5 separate regions of the Homo sapiens genome follow, and all the other regions are reported to be linked to region 4. Evidence: microRNA targets listed by miRTarBase, many of them from high-throughput screens and not tested one by one. Region 4 holds a microRNA gene; each other region holds the end of a gene's coding sequence.

What was found. The annotated mature microRNA hsa-miR-6836-3p reads AUGCCUCCCCCGGCCCCGCAG and lies in region 4 at 2,088-2,108, opposite strand. An mRNA with a match to its seed (bases 2 to 7 or 8) in the 3' UTR can be bound and repressed. Matches are read on the target gene's strand: a 7mer-m8 pairs with bases 2 to 8, a 7mer-A1 pairs with bases 2 to 7 and ends in A, and an 8mer does both.
Region 1: miRTarBase lists SIX4 as a target of hsa-miR-6836-3p. The part of its 3' UTR that is shown has no 7-base or 8-base seed match.
Region 2: miRTarBase lists BRMS1 as a target of hsa-miR-6836-3p. Seed matches in the 3' UTR shown: 8mer at 777-784.
Region 3: miRTarBase lists ZNF860 as a target of hsa-miR-6836-3p. The part of its 3' UTR that is shown has no 7-base or 8-base seed match.
Region 5: the mRNA of PRPF4 is a reported target of hsa-miR-6836-3p. Seed matches in the 3' UTR shown: 7mer-m8 at 770-776.

What each region holds. Positions count from the first base shown.
Region 1 is chr14:60,710,510-60,713,574 of GRCh38, reverse strand. It overlaps SIX4 (SIX homeobox 4), which reads left to right. Exons shown (of 3, transcript NM_017420.5): 3 at 1-3,065. The coding sequence ends at 168. Among named protein-coding and RNA genes, the nearest start is that of SIX4, 12 kb to the left of the region's middle.
Region 2 is chr11:66,335,145-66,338,209 of GRCh38, reverse strand. It overlaps BRMS1 (BRMS1 transcriptional repressor and anoikis regulator), which reads left to right. Exons shown (of 10, transcript NM_015399.4): 10 at 321-871. The coding sequence ends at 328. It overlaps RIN1 (Ras and Rab interactor 1), which reads left to right and starts at 1,776. Exons shown (of 10, transcript NM_004292.3): 1 at 1,776-1,893; 2 at 2,052-2,232; 3 at 2,334-2,448; 4 at 2,528-2,600; 5 at 2,712-2,803; 6 at 2,959-3,065. The coding sequence starts at 1,808. RefSeq lists an enhancer at 442-1,296.
Region 3 is chr3:31,990,768-31,993,832 of GRCh38, reverse strand. It overlaps ZNF860 (zinc finger protein 860), which reads right to left. Exons shown (of 2, transcript NM_001137674.3): 2 at 2,110-3,065. The coding sequence ends at 2,855. It also overlaps a transcript of OSBPL10 not described here. Among named protein-coding and RNA genes, the nearest start is that of ZNF860, 11 kb to the right of the region's middle.
Region 4 is chr7:2,255,428-2,258,550 of GRCh38, forward strand. It overlaps MIR6836 (microRNA 6836), which reads right to left and starts at 2,150; the gene lies at 2,088-2,150. SNX8 (sorting nexin 8) reads right to left here. Exons shown (of 11, transcript NM_013321.4): 8 at 2,308-2,376; 9 at 1,938-2,087; 10 at 1,447-1,596. RefSeq lists an enhancer at 2,485-3,123.
Region 5 is chr9:113,291,371-113,294,435 of GRCh38, forward strand. PRPF4 (pre-mRNA splicing tri-snRNP complex factor PRPF4) reads left to right here. Exons shown (of 14, transcript NM_001244926.2): 14 at 97-1,535. The coding sequence ends at 290. Among named protein-coding and RNA genes, the nearest start is that of RNF183, 10 kb to the right of the region's middle.

The DNA of each region.
Region 1 (3,065 bases), not on the chromosome of region 4:
TCAAATTCTGAGAGCAAAGCAACAAGTAGCTTAATGATGCTGGACTCTAAATCCAAGTATGTCTTAGATGGCATGGTTGATACTGTCTGTGAAGACCTGGAAACAGACAAAAAAGAGCTTGCCAAGCTCCAGACTGTCCAGCTGGATGAAGATATGCAAGACTTATGAACTTTATTTCCTCCTCACCTCTTTTTGGCATCAGCGGCAAATCTTTTCATGAAGCCCCAAGGACACAAAACATTTTCCCATTTAAAGGAAAACACTCTAGTTTTGCAAGTATATGCATACAAGAGACTTTAGATTGATCTGCATGAAGATCACAGTTAAGTATACAGGAGTAGAACTGCATTATTGCAGCCTTTTTGTTCACTTATAAATTTCTCTTTTAAATAGATGGAGACAAAGGACAAGGTGAAATGTATCAAGTCAAAGTGAATCATTTAGTTGACTCTATAATTCTAAGGTCAAAATGGAACTTGATAGTTTTTTAAATTAAAAAATGTATACACCTAACATAGAAAATTAAAGATAGCTGCAGACCATTAGAAATAATACAATTGTTTTTGTTTACTTTTACTCCATGGGCATTGAAAAGGTTAAGAAACATAAATGGTACATATTTTTAAAGTTAAGTAGCATGCATATATATATGCACACACACCTCTTTTTCAGCATTTTTTGAGAAAGTCTTGGGTCTCAAACACATTTGTCTCAACACATTTCCAAATGTGATTTCTAATAGCTCAGTGTGGCTGAGAAAGTGCGGAACTCCACTAAAAACTCTGAAACTTCAGTATAAATGTAAATATATCAGTTCTATAAGCAGGATTTGAGTAATTACAGTGAATTTTATTTTTAATGTATATGTTTCTCTTCAGGCGCTATGAACTGAAAAATATGTTTTCTTACTGTTTAATTTATTTTTATTGTTTGAACAGGAAGTGAACATAGTCGTTTCCAACAAAGTTTTACTTTTTGTAGGATTTTAAAAATAATGATTTTTACCAGGAATCTATTAAGGTCAATATTAATAACACTGAAACAGGAAATCTAACTCCCAATATTGGAATTTTGGTACTTTTTTTCACATCCTTGTTCTTTATTTAGCAACTCTGATTCATTTAAATATGTTTTTTATAGAATTCTATGTGCCTTTTTACCTCGTGGCCTTTTTATTGGTAGTAAGGTACAGAAGTGTCAACAGAAGCACTGATGGTTCTTTTCTACTATCTAACAGGGTTAATTTCACCACAAAATTGCTTTAAATCTGAAGAACTTAAGTTTCACTAAATAATATATATGACATTTATCACACAAATGGATAAACAACTAATTATTGTTGATACTTTTCATTACAAGGAAAATAAGTTATAAATACCATGTCAAATTGATTATACAGGCTATGAAAACCATTTTAAAGGAAAGAAAATATGTAAATTCTATTGAGCAAAATTCTGTCCTGTTGAAACTTAGTTCTAAAGGTTTTGAATCAGTTGTTACACTCTGACACATGACTGTTGTTTGCACTATATTATCATGTCTTCTTTAAAAGTAAATATTTTTGGTTTCTGTAAGAAGCTTGTTTAATAATGTTGTAAGCCGTGGCTATAGTTTTATCAAGACTCTGAACACAAGATGTAACAATGCAAATAAATTTATGTAGTGAGTAAAGTTGCTCTCTAGTCTCTGAAAAGCAAAAAAAGTGAGAAAATAATTTCTTCAGAGATAACTTCAAGTTGTTGAACATAAAGGTGTTAGATGTTAGCACATCTTGCTTTTTTTTTTTTTTTGAGATGGAGTCTCGCTCTGTTGCCCAGGCTGGAGTGCAGTGGCACGATCTTGGCTCACTGCAAGCTCTGCCTCCTGGGTTCACGCCATTCTCCTGCCTCAGCCTCCCGAGTAGCTGGGACTACAGGCACCTGCCACCATGCCCGGCTAAATTTTTGTATTTTTAGTAGAGACGGGGTTTCACCGTGTTAGCCAGGATGGTCTTGATCTCCTGACCTCGTGATCTGCCCGCCTCGGCCTCCCAAAGTGCTGGGATTATAGGCATGAGCCACTGTGCCTGGCCACATCTTGCTTTTTTTTTTATGATCAGAACAAAGGGCCCACTCTAGTTCTCTACATGTCAATCAATCAAGCATGTTGAATAAGGGACATAGAGGATTTAACTTTTGTTATCATAAATGGAACTTGCAGGCATATATCAAGAACCCTATGAAGAATTCCTCTCCCATCATTTTGATAAAGAACTACATCATTTTTGATAGAATTGGTGAATGTTCCTAAACTGCTGAAGCTACATGTTTTTTGTTTTGTTTTACAAAGTCAGGTGTTTGAGAGTTCTTTTCCACTCTACTACTACTCATAGAGCTTGTTTTTTCTTTGGGTGTGTGCTGATCCTGTTACTGAGATTAATTACATGGCTCTGCAGTGTAGTTTACATAAAAATGATGTTTTCCACTTGATTGCTGCAGATATCAAGAGTTTGTTATTTTCAAATACCCATCCAACAAGAGAGATGGGGAGGTTTTTAGTTATATATGCTATATATATATATATAACTGGAAATGTTTTATATGTTTTCCGAAAATACAATAAGCCTCTCTTTTATTCAGTGTTCTTCCTCTTTTCTCCCTTATGAAAAAGAAAAGATAGCACAAAACTTAAGACTTACCTAGGAAACCCATTCATATTCCCACCATGATGTAATTATAACCCTACAATTACTTCAGGTAGCTACACAATATACCAGGTAAGAATCAATGCACAGTATAAAGAACTTATTGTTCTTTTCTATTCTTTCAGTTGAATAAGGGCCAGTTGGTATGCAGCCCATGTATATGTGAATGGAGTAAGATAAACCCCATGATCTCCTTGCACAGAATTGCAAATGTCTTTTGCCATACCAAGGGCCAGACTCAGAACCCTTGGAGTCATGTGGCAGAATTTCCCTCTTACATAAACCAATGCTTGAAAATGCTGCAAATGACCCTCTAATGATCCCTGAAGATCAAAACAGGGGTAAATGACTCCCTGCAAAACCCAACCCATGCTGCTGGCTG
Region 2 (3,065 bases), not on the chromosome of region 4:
CCCCCTTGCCATCACCTTTCCTCAGCTCAGCTTCCAGGAAGGAGCCCAGAGAAAGGCTGTGACTGTGTCAGAATCAGTGGCTCAAGAAAGTTAGGATGGTCTAGATTTGAGGGGCTTGTGGGAGTTTGAGGAGCAGGAACCAGGATGGGGCTGGGGAAGCTCTGGGTTGATGGAGCTCCCACTCAGGAGGGGTCAGGGAGGGCTGTGGAGCTGCCCAGGAGGCCTGTTCTGGGCCAGCCCAAAGCCACTCAGTAAGTGGCTGCCTCCTTCCTTTCAGCTTCCTAACTGGTGACAGTTTTCTTCTTCCCACATATGCACAGGACCTTGACCCTGCTGTTCACAGCCAGGGGGACCCTCAGAGCAGCTGGCACTGCACCCAGGATTCTCGTCTTCCTCCTGCAGACAGGCGGACCCACAGGCCCCTCAGGGTCTGCCCAGCCAGGCTCCTGTGGTGCTGCTGGGCCCTCCCACTCCATCTGGCACTGGCCTGGACTCCTCCTCTGCCCTCCTCGAGGCCTGCACAGCTGTGGCCGTGGAGCTGACCTGACCAGGCAAGGCTGCTGTCTCCATCCCTGAGCCGCCTGCCACCTCCCACTCCTGAAGATCCATCTCTTGGGGCTCCCCTGACAGAGAAGACAGCCGAAGTCAAAGCCACATCCTCTTGCTGATGTTGGATGCAGGCTGTCCGGCCTCAGGGCCAGGGAGCCAGTTTCCACTGTGCGGGAACTCTGAGTCAGACGTGATTATCTGGGGGTCTGTCCACCCTGGCTGGATCTGGAGGCAAGATGCCAGGCCCCCCAGGTGTTCTCAGGGCAGTTCTTGGTGTCTGCTTCTCAGATTCCAAGGACTGGAATTAAAACCTTTCCTGGGACTCTGGCGTGCCCTGTGTGTGTGTGTGATTTACCTTGCAAGAGAATCAGGGCTCCCGTGGGGAGCACCTGAACCAGGCCGACTTCTAGGGTGCCTGCAGATTGCCACTCCTCACACTACCCAGCAGAGGCTAGAGCACTGTGCGTGGGGCCAGGCTGGGGAGGGGGAGGTGGGCGCTGGGCTGCCTGGCGCTGGGCAGAGTCAACATATGGCACCGGGAGAGTGCCTCGGCGGGGAGGGTGGATGCGTGTGCTTGGAGCCTGGGTCATGTCTGCACCTGTCCCAGTTGCCTGGCAGATTGGCAAGGCAGGCTGGCAGAGCCTGCGTGCGTGGGAGGCAGCCGGCAGCACCGCCATGTGCTGACGACCTCACAGCCAGACTCCCCCTGGTTAGCACTGAGTGTCAGAACCACCCCCAGAACCTCAGTTAAGCAAATAGGTTGGTTTCCATGGAGACATGGCATATTTTCTCCATGGCAACCTAAAATCCTAAAACCCAGGTTCAGGAATGAGTCATCTATGGACAGTAGAGGGTGCTCTCCCACAAGGCTGACCTGAGGCCAGGGGCAGATGAGCAACTGACCACAGAGCCAAAGGTGCCCCCAGAGCATGGCTGGGGCCTGTGGGGACTGAGGCCGCTTAACCACTTCCCGCCCACGTGTGCAATGTGAGTAGCTGGTGAGGCTGCAGGAGGCCGTGTGTGGAGGTGGCATCCCCCAGCTGGGGCCCTCAGAGCAGGGCTAGCATGGAGGGGACCCCTGACCCCCAAAGCAGGGTCCAGAACAGAGGAGGCGGGCACTGGCCAGGCAGGGTGGACACACAAGAGTTAACTGGCGGGTGTGACAGGCGGACCGCCCTCAGGAAGTGTTACTCACTGGGGATGTGCGTGCCTTGCCTTGGGACTGGATTCTCTTCCTGAAGCGAAGGAGCTCCCAGCCATGGAAAGCCCTGGAGAGTCAGGCGCGGGCTCTCCTGGAGCCCCCAGCCCGTCCAGCTTCACTACTGGGCACCTGGCGAGAGAAAAGTTAGTGAAGTTGGCAGGGCAGCCAGGTGGGGCAGGGAGGGGCTGCGAGAGGAGGGCCTATCCGGGGATAGAGAAAGTGGGAAACCCGGGAGTGGGGAAGAGGAGAGCAAGGGTCCCAGCCCCTGGCTCCCTGCTCAGATCTGGGTGCCTGCCCCCAGGCCAGCCCAGGACCCACTGTATGACGTGCCCAATGCCAGCGGCGGGCAGGCAGGCGGGCCGCAGCGGCCGGGGCGCGTTGTGAGCCTGCGGGAGCGCCTGCTGCTCACCCGGCCCGTGTGGCTGCAGCTGCAAGCCAACGCAGCGGCCGCACTGCACATGCTGAGGACCGAGCCCCCGGGGGTGAGTCTTGCCCCACACTCCAGGGACTGGCCAGCCAGGGGTGGGAGGGAGAGGGATGGGACGCCAAGGTCCTGAGCTGCCTGAGCCCTATCCACTTGCAGACGTTCCTCGTGCGGAAATCTAACACCCGCCAGTGCCAGGCCCTGTGCATGCGGTTGCCTGAAGCCAGTGGCCCCTCCTTCGTCTCCAGCCACTACATCCTGGAGAGCCCTGGCGGTGAGGGGCTGGCCTGGCGGGAAGGGGCTGGAAGCAGGGAGGTTCCCCAGAGAAGCACCTCACTTCCCTCCTCTCTCAGGCGTCTCCTTGGAGGGCTCGGAGCTCATGTTCCCAGACCTAGTCCAGCTCATCTGTGCCTACTGCCACACCCGGTGAGTCTGCCCGCAGGGTGCCTGGTGTCCACGGGCCCTGCTCCTTGGGACAGCCCATCCTTCCCGCCCTCTTCGGCCCTCACTCCCTTCTGCTCCCCTCTCTGGCCTCAGGGACATCCTTCTCCTCCCGCTGCAGCTCCCCAGAGCCATCCACCACGCAGCCACTCACAAAGAGCTGGAGGCCATCTCCCATCTGGGCATTGGTAAGGGCTTCCTGCCACCCATTGCACAGATGAACAAGCTGAGGCCGAGGGGAAGGCAAGGCTCGCAGCACACCGCCCGAAGCCCCTGCCTTGCCTTGGTTGGGAAACTTCCCCTAACCAGTCCCGGAGGCCCCAGTCGGTTTCTTGTTCCCTAGAGTTCTGGAGCTCCTCCCTCAACATCAAGGCTCAGCGGGGCCCGGCTGGAGGCCCAGTGTTGCCCCAGCTGAAGGCCCGGTCCCCTCAAGAGCTGGACCAGGGCACC
Region 3 (3,065 bases), not on the chromosome of region 4:
TGTTTAACTTTAAAAGACACTGTCAAACTGTTTTCCAAAGTGACTGTATTATTTTGCACTCTCACCAGCAATGTGTAAGAGTTCCAATTACTCCACATCCTCACCAGCACTTGGTATCCTCAGTTTTGTGTGTGTGTGTGTGTGTGTGTGTATGTGTGTGTAGTCATGTTAATAGGTATGTAGTAGTATCTCATTGTAGTTTTACTTGTATTTCCCTAATGACTAGTAATGTTGAACATCTCTTGATGTGCTTTTTCGGACATCTGTATATCTTATTTGGTGAAGTGAATGCTCACATTTTTTGTGATTAAAAAAGGGTTTTCTTGTCTGGGCGCGGTGGCTCATGCCTGTAATCCCAGCACTTTGGGAGGCCGAGGCGGGTGGATCACCTGAGGTCAGGAGTTTGAAACCAGCCTGACCAACATGGAGAAACCCTGTCTCTACTAAAAATACAAAATTAGCCGGGCATGGTGGCGCATGCCTGTAATCCCAGCTACCGGGAGGCTGAGGCAGGAGAAGTGCTTGAACCTGGGAGGTGGAAGTTGTGGTGAGCTGAGATCGTGCCATTGCACTCCAGCCTGGTCAACAAGAGTGAACTCTGTCTCAAAAATAAAATAAAATAAAATAAAATAAAATAAAATAAAATAAAATAAAATAAAATAAAATAAGGTTTTCTTACTTCTGCATTTTGAGGGTTCTTTGAATATGCGGGAAACAAGTCCTTGGTCAAACACATGATTTGCAAATATTTTCCCGTCTTTGGCTCACCTTTCATTTCCTTACCCATATCTTTTGTAGAGTAAATATTTTCAGTATTTGTTTATTTTTTAGAGACAGGGTCTTGCTCTATTGCCTGGGCTGGAGTGCAGTGGCATGATCACAGCTCACTGCAGCTTTGAACTTCTGTGTTCAAGTGATACTCCTGCCTCAGCCTCTTGAGTAACTAGGACTACAGGCATGTGCCATCCACACCCAGCTAATATTTTATTTAAAAAACTTTCTGGACAGATGTTACCTTGCTATGTAGCCCAAGCTGGTCTTGAAATCCCAGCCTCAAGTGATGTTCCTGCCTTGGCCTCCCAAAGTGCTGGGATTACAGGCATGAGTCACCATGCCTGGCCAAGGTTTGTTTGTTTTTTGCATATAGATGTCTAGTTCCATCACTTGTTGAAAAGATCATCCAGGTGTGCTCAATGTAATCACAAGGGTCCTTATGAAAAATGCAGGAGGGTCAGAGTCAGAGAAGGAGATGCAATGACAGAACCAGAGATTGGAGTGATGTCCTTGCTGAAAGGGGCCAAAAACCAGGAACCAAGGAATGTGGGCAGCCTCTAGATGCTGGAAAAGGCAAGTAATAGATTCTCCCCTAGAGCCTCCAGAATCAACATGGCTCTACTGATACCTTGATTTTACCATGTAAGACCCATTTTTGGGCTTCTGACTGCCAGAACGGTAAAATAATCAAGTTGTATTGTTTTATAATAACCACTATGTTTATGGTAATATTTTATAGTAGCAATAGGAAACCAATACAAAAAGCTGCATTGAATTGCCTTTGCATTTCTGTCAAAATCAAGTGACTATATTCATATGAAACTATTTCTAGATTATTTATTCTGTTCCATATTTCTATGTGTCCATACTTTTTGCCTACACCACACTGACATATCTTTTTTTTTTTTTTTTTGAGATGGAGTCTCGCTCTGTTGCCTAGGTTGGAGTGCAGTGGGGCGATCCTGGCTCACTGCGACCTCTGCCTCCCAGGTTCAAGTGATTCTCCTGCCTCAGCCTCCCCAGTAGCTGGGACTACTGGTGCGTGCCACTACGCCTGGCTAATTTTTGTATTTTTTGTAGAGGTGGGGTTTTGCCATGTTGACCAGGCTGGTCTCAAACTCCTAACCTCAAGTGATCCACCCAAAGTGCTGGGATTACAGGCATGAGCCACTGCACCTGGCATTTTTTTTTTTTTAGCCTGTCTTGAATTCTCTTATTTTCACTGCTTCATATCTTCAGGATATGAAAAGTTGGTCAGTGGTAGTGAGAAAGATCCCAAAACATAAGGATCAAAAAATGGCATGTTTCAGGGTAGGCATCTGTATTAGTTATCCATTTTTTTTTTCAGAAAGAAAGAAGTAAAATTGTATTTGTTTGTAGATGACATGATCTGCTGTGTAGAAAATCACAGAGTCAACTAAAATACTACTGAAGCTAATAAACACAGTGTATTTGCAGAATACAATATCAGTACCAAAAATTAGTTAAATTTCCATACATTAACAATAAACAATGTTAAAAGAAAATTAAGAAAACACTTCCATTTGCTAGAGAACTTACAGTAAGAAATATTTAGGAATAAACGTAAAAAGGTGAGAAGTTTGTACCTTGAAATCTACAAACATTGATCAAAATGATTAAAAACTTATATAAATAGAGATATGACCCATATTGATGGATTGGAAAGATTAATATTGTTAAATGATTATATAACCCAATGTGATTTAGATTCAACACAATACCCATAAAAATCCCTATCAGAAACAAAAAACAGGCTAGGAAAAGTGGCTCACGTCTTTTGGCCAGGATGGTCTCAAACTCCTGACCTCAAGTGATCTATCCGTCTTGACCTCCCACAGTGCTGGGATTACAGGTATAAGCCACCCTGCCCAGCCCAATCCTCTTAACGTAAACACTTTAATGTCAATTAATGCTTGAACTCAATGTCAAGTCAACTGAAACTCAAGTCAATGCTGAATTGACTCTAATGTCAATTAATGCTTGATGGTTTGCTATACTCATTGCATTTGGAACAATTATCTCAGGAATGAATTTTCTGATGTTTTGCAAGGAGTGACCTCTAACTGAAGACCTTGCCACGCTTATGACATTTGTAAGATTTCTGTCCGGTATGGATTCTCTGATGTCTAATGCGATGTGAATGTGAAGTAAAGGCTTTGCCACAATCATCACACTTGTGATGTTTCTCTCCCATATGAATTCTCCTTTGTTTTGCATAAGATGAAGCTTGACTGAAGGCCTCGTCAAAATCATCACATTTGTAAGGTTTC
Region 4 (3,123 bases):
CTGCCTGCCGTGGAATCGTGAGAAACGTTACTATCGCGTCACTGCCAGTACATGCTCTAGCTGCCGTGCGGGCACTGGCCTCATGGAAGCCTTGGCAGGTCAAACACCAAGGCCAGCCTGGGCAACACACGGACACCCTGTCTCCACAGAAAATCAGAAATATGAGTCGGATGTGGTGGCACCTGCCTGTGGTCCCAGCTACTCGGGAGGTTGAGGCTGCAGTGAGCTGTGATTGCACCACTGCACTCCAGCTTGGGTGACAGAGCAAGACTCCACCTCAAAACCAAAAAGCAAACCAAAAACACAAAGACCACATCCACCAAATCAATAATACCCAAACCGGAATGCAAACGGCGGCCCCACTCGCCAAGCACTTTTGGAACCAGGGCAAGGAACGGATGCTGTGGATGTGAGGAGGGGAGCGCGGCAGTGAGGCAGGGGTCAGGCCAAGACCTGCCGTGCAGGGGCTCAGGTGGCCAGAGAAGGGCAGGGCGCACCCTGGGGGCCTGCAGGGGAGGCTGAGTCACTGGACCACAGCGCACACAGCATCACAGGGCTGGAAATTCCTCACCACCACAATAAAAAACCTGGTAGGACTGGGGTTATGGCATCATGCTCCGGGCGCCTGTTGGTCCCATTCCTTCACTGAGGACACACCCGGCCACTCACATGTCCAAGTCCAACCTGGTCCCTGAGACCCTGGCCATCTCACAGTGATGCTCCTAACACGGCGGCTGTCTACCGCCTCTCCAGCCCCACCACGGCCGCCTCCAGCCTGCCATTCCCAAAGTGCTGGACGGCACCCACGGCACCAAGCACCTCCCGGGGACAGTGTGGAATCTCGTGACCACCCCAGACACTCGGTGCCATTCCACACACACCACAGACCATGGCTTGAAAGCTACTTGCAGCTACTTAATAAACTTAATTTCAGCCGGGCACAAGGTGCTCGCCTGTAATCCCAGCGGTGCTGCAGTGAGCTGGCCACCAGAAATCAACGGAGGCCTGTCCCAGGACCTTGGGAGCGTTTCTTCTCCCAGGCTGAAGGAACCGCCATCTGCTCTGGAGGAAGCCGGCCAGGGCTCTCTGGAAGAACAGCCACCTGCGGCGCTCCGAAGCGCTAGAAACCTTCTCTCAGCCGCAGGGTGCGGGAGCTCTGCGGGCTTTACCTCCGACTTCTCAAATCCCTCCAGGAGGCAAACTCTCCCTGTCTGCTCCTCCCTCCGCCCCCCAGGAATCACAGGGACACCCTCACGATTCTGATTTTGGCTACACAGGAGACTAGAAGATCCGGGCGAGCACCGTGTTCCAAGGCCCATGCGGAGCCCAACTCCACTAAAGAACCTCTCTAGGGCGGCCGGCCACCGCGCTGCCGGGCTTGAAGGAAGGGCGGAGGGACAAAGAAAGGCCGTGGCCGAGACGGCGGCCGGAGCAGGGCGGACTCACCTCCTTGTGCCCTTGGATCTGAGAGTTGACGAAGGCGCGGAGGATGTGGGAGGTGAGGGGCAGGTAGACGTGGATGAGCTGCGTCTCCTGGTGCAGGCAGTACAGGGAGAAGTAGTTCCGCAGCTCCATCGTCTGAATCGCGTTCTCCTGCTGCGGAGCAAACAGCCGCCTTTCGCACCCGGCCCAGCCGGCGACGGGAGCACCAAGGCCCGAACACCAGCGTGCTCCCTGAGCCAGGGCGGCCCCTTCTCCTTCAGCCTTCACCAGGCATTTGGAAGGTGGCGAGGTAAGAGAGGGCCGGGGAGGGAGCACCGTGCAGGGAGCCGCATCGCTCTGGGCACGCGGGCCAGCTCCCTGCCTCCACTGCACCCCCAGCTCTGTTCCAGACACAAGGAGCCAACCCAGGGGAGCCCACCAGGACGGCTCCGGGTCCCACCATGGCCGGGAGGGGAAAGGCTCCCACGGGCCTGCTCGGCCGCCCCGCCACCCACCTCCACAATGCGGGACTCCAGCTGCTCCACGGACTCCGGCTCGCGGTTCTGCGCGGTGGCGCTCATCATCTGCCTCTTCATCAGGCTGTACTTGTGCAGGGCCCGCTGGTGCTTGTGCAACACGCCCTTCTCATGCCGCTCGCACAGGTCCTGCGGGGCCGGGGGAGGCATTCGCCCGCTGTCTGGATGCCTGCGCCAGGGCCCTGCGGAGCCGGCCGAGGGAAGCACCCCCGCCAGACGGAAGGCCCCGTCTTCCCCTGCAGCCCTGGCTTCTCAGCTCCTCTTCCGTCCCCCAGGAGTTAGACCCTTGAAGGATCCTAAGATCATTCCTGAAAGTTCTGCCCCCAGCCAAGGAGCAGCCAAGACTCACCTTATAGGACTGCAGCAGATCCAAGAAGAGGTTCAGCTTCTCCACCACGTCGTTCTCTTCCTGCTTACCCTGGAAGGCGAGGGGGAGCTCACCCACGCGGACGCACATAGGACCCGGTCCCTGCCCGGGAACTCAGACCCAAGCCTGGCCTGGGCCGGTTCCTTCCTCCCAGAGTCAGACGGGCTCCCCAGGACCACCAGCCAGGTCTGCAGGGGGCCCCCTTCCCCACCAGCCCACCCATTACCAGGCGGACACGCCTTCGAGCCCAGCAGTCTTTTTTTTTTTTTTTTTTTGAGTCGGAGTCTTCGCTCTGTCGCCCAGGCTGGAATGCAGTGGCACGATCTCGGCTCACTGCAAGCTCCGCCTCCCGGGTTCACGCCATTCTCCTGCCTCAGCCTCCCGAGTAGCTGGGACTACAGGCGCCCTCCACCATGCCCGGCTAATTTTTTGTATTTCTTTTTTTAGTAGAGACGGGGTTTCACCGTGTTAGCGAGGATGGTCTTGATCTCCAGACCTCGTGATCCGCCCGCCTCGGCCTCCCAAAGTGCTGGATTACAGGCGTGAGCCACCGCGCTGGGCCTGGCCCAGCAGTCTTGATGGGAACAAGGCCTGCGTTCCCGCGGGACAGCTGCCCGCCCTCCTGCTCATCAGCCCGGCCTGCCTTGCCTTTCTCAGGCCTTCGCAAAGCCGGCGACTCTCCCAACACATATGCTGGGAGAGCCAGATGCCCCAGACCCCCCGACCCCTAAGGCTCCATCAAGCACTGCAGAAAACCCGAGTTCCCATATAACGCTGTGAGCCGTGTGCAAAACGGGC
Region 5 (3,065 bases), not on the chromosome of region 4:
TTTTAAAAATAGTATGTTTTTGCAGACTTTTGTGCTTTTGTCTTCTCTTTTGAATACTTGAATTCCTCAAGCAATTCCCCTTCTCTTCTCCTGTAGCTATCCATGGGAACTTCTTGCTTACTGGTGCCTATGATAACACAGCCAAGATCTGGACGCACCCAGGCTGGTCCCCGCTGAAGACTCTGGCTGGCCACGAAGGCAAAGTGATGGGCCTAGATATTTCTTCCGATGGGCAGCTCATAGCCACTTGCTCATATGACAGGACCTTCAAGCTGTGGATGGCTGAATAGATGACAATGGGAAAAGGACTTGAACCTCAAGCTCTCTCTAAGGAGCTGTTTTCCTCAAACGAGAAGAATTGAAGTGTTTAGTTCTATCATGTTTTCTGCCAATTACCATGCATAGACCCTCAGTAGAATTGGATTTCCATGTCAGCCCCCACTCCAGGAAGGCAGCCCAATCCCTAGGTGATGGGGAACCCCTCTCACGGTTGAAAATTTATTACCTTTTTACGCCCTGCCACGAACTGTGTAGACATTGTTTTTATTAATCTTTTGTTTGGCCGGGCGTGGTGGCTCACGCCTGTAATCCTAGCACTTTGGGAGGCCGAGGTGGGTAGATCGCTTGAGCTCAGGAGTTCAAGACGAGCCTGGGCAACATGGCAAATGCCGTCTCTGCAAAAAAATACTAAAATTAGCTGGTCGCGGTGGCTTCTGCCTGTGATTCCGGCTACTTGGGAGGCTGAGGTGGGAGGGATTGCTTAAGCCTGGGAGGCAGAGGTTGCAGTGAGCCGAGATTGCGCCATTGCACTCTAGCCTGTGTGACAGAGCAAGACCCTGTCTCAAAAAAAAAAAAAATTTGTTCGAATGCCTTATAGCCTTCCTCACAGCACCCAGGATTGTGACTGACTCTGCATTTTTAATTCTTGAAACTTGGCTTTCCATAACATGGTACATGCTTCAGGACTACATATGACCCAGAGAGCAAGGTGGCTGAACTATAGTCTGGAAGCCCTCAGGTAAAGAGGCACATCTCACCACTCATTGGTTAAACAATGCATCATAGCGAGCACTTTTCCTTTCCCTGGAGAATGGGATGTGAAGCAGTAGACCGCAGCCACGCCGATGGTTATACAGTGAAGAAGACTTCACCTCTTCCTATTGAGTTTGCTTGGAATGCTGACAGCATCAGGCAACTCTGAACTGAACATTTGCTTTGTCAGAAAATATCTTTTTTTTTACTTTGAAGTTTGGCAACCTTCATGTTACCCCAAAGCAAAACCATTGTGTCAGGAGTCAAACAAATGTTTAGAAAGCAAACATGACGTCTCTATTGTACAACCTCCTTTCTCTTGGCTGTTTAAAGGATGTACTTCGTGTATTAAAGGGTACTTTATGTTGAAGTAACGAAAAAACCCTAATGGGTGTTCCTAAACCTAAACCTTTTCTTTATTCCACATTTGCTACGGTAAAATCCTGTTACAAAACTACCCTATAAAGAATTATTTTCTATAGTTAAGCATTTTCTGAATCCTAGCCATTGGTCCATAGAGGTCTCTTTTTTTTGGTTTGGGATATAATGGATGATCTCAAATATGGATTACTCTGATTTATGTCTCCTTAGCACCTTGTTAACAATTTTTTTTAAAATAGAAGGCTGTTTGCATTTTGGGCCAGACTGCCAGTAAGCCAGGCCTGGACTCAATTACAATTCTTAACTTGTCTGTCATGCACCTCTTTTCACCTCAACTATACAGCCTCTGAACTCTCAAATTACACAGTAAATTCAAAAAAATATATAGGAATTTGGAAGAAGAAAAGGTTGTCTACAGAGGAGAGTTATTAAAGAAAGGCTTCTTGGCCGGGCACGGTGGCTCACGTATGTAATCGCTTGAACCTGGGAGGCGGAGGTTGCAGTGAGCCAAGATCACACCGTTGTACTACAGCCTGGGCAACAGAGCAAGACTCCATCTCAAAAAAACTTAATTTGCTGTTGCAGAGAGGTTGACAATGGCTTTGGTCAGCTCTATTCTGTGGACCCTGAATGTGTGATATATAGCCAAACAACTGGTTTGTTTTGTTTCATTTTGAGACAGGGTCTCGCTTTGTCGCCGAGATTGGAGTGCAGTAGTGCGAACACAGCTCACCACAGCCTTGACTTCCTGTGCTCAAATGATTCTCCTGCCTCATCCCCTCATCCTGTGTAACTGGGATCACAGGAGGATGCCACCATGCCTAGCTAATTTTTTTGATTTTTTGGTAGAGACACGATTTCACTTTGTTGCCCAGGCCGGTCTCAAATTTCTGGGCTCATGCAATCCTGCCTTGGCCTCCCAAAATGCTGGGATTACAGGCATGAGTCACTGTGCCTGACCTAAACATACTGTTTTTAATCTGATTTCAATTATAACCAAATAGTTGCATTTCCTATGTAGTTGTTCAGCTTCTGAATTCTCAGGACTACCCTCTGTTGCTCACTTCACTATTGTTCAGGTATTAATGAATTCTATTTCATAGATTATGATGAAAAGAACTTTTTTTCTTCTTTGTAGTATGTGTAAAATAATGAAGAACACTGGTGAATTAGCATGCAATTGGATATAATGTGCTAACAAAGATTTTTAGTTTCTCAGGTTTAAATTTTGCTATTAGTTCCCTTCGACTTGTTTTTCTTTGTTTTTTGGTTGGTCCAAGAGGTAGCAGTTGGGTGAAAACATTTCATCCAAGCCTTTGACAGAACAAATACCTTGTGGGCTATTTCTTCACAGGAATTAAAACATCATTGTAAGAAAGTGGTTAAGAAGCACAAAGCCAGGTGTGGCATTTGTGAAAATGGCAAGATAAACAGCCACCGTTTCACAGAACACTTAGTCCCTACCTAGATGGTATACCAGGCACATTCAGATACCTTGTTTAATCCCCACAATCTTTTGAGTTTATTATTCCCTTTTTATGGACAAAACAGGCTCCAAAAACACTTGCTCAAGTTTAGCCAGCTAGCAAGTGATGGAGCTTGAATTTGAACTGTCATCTGACCATTGATGACCTTATGAAGGTTTCACAGGT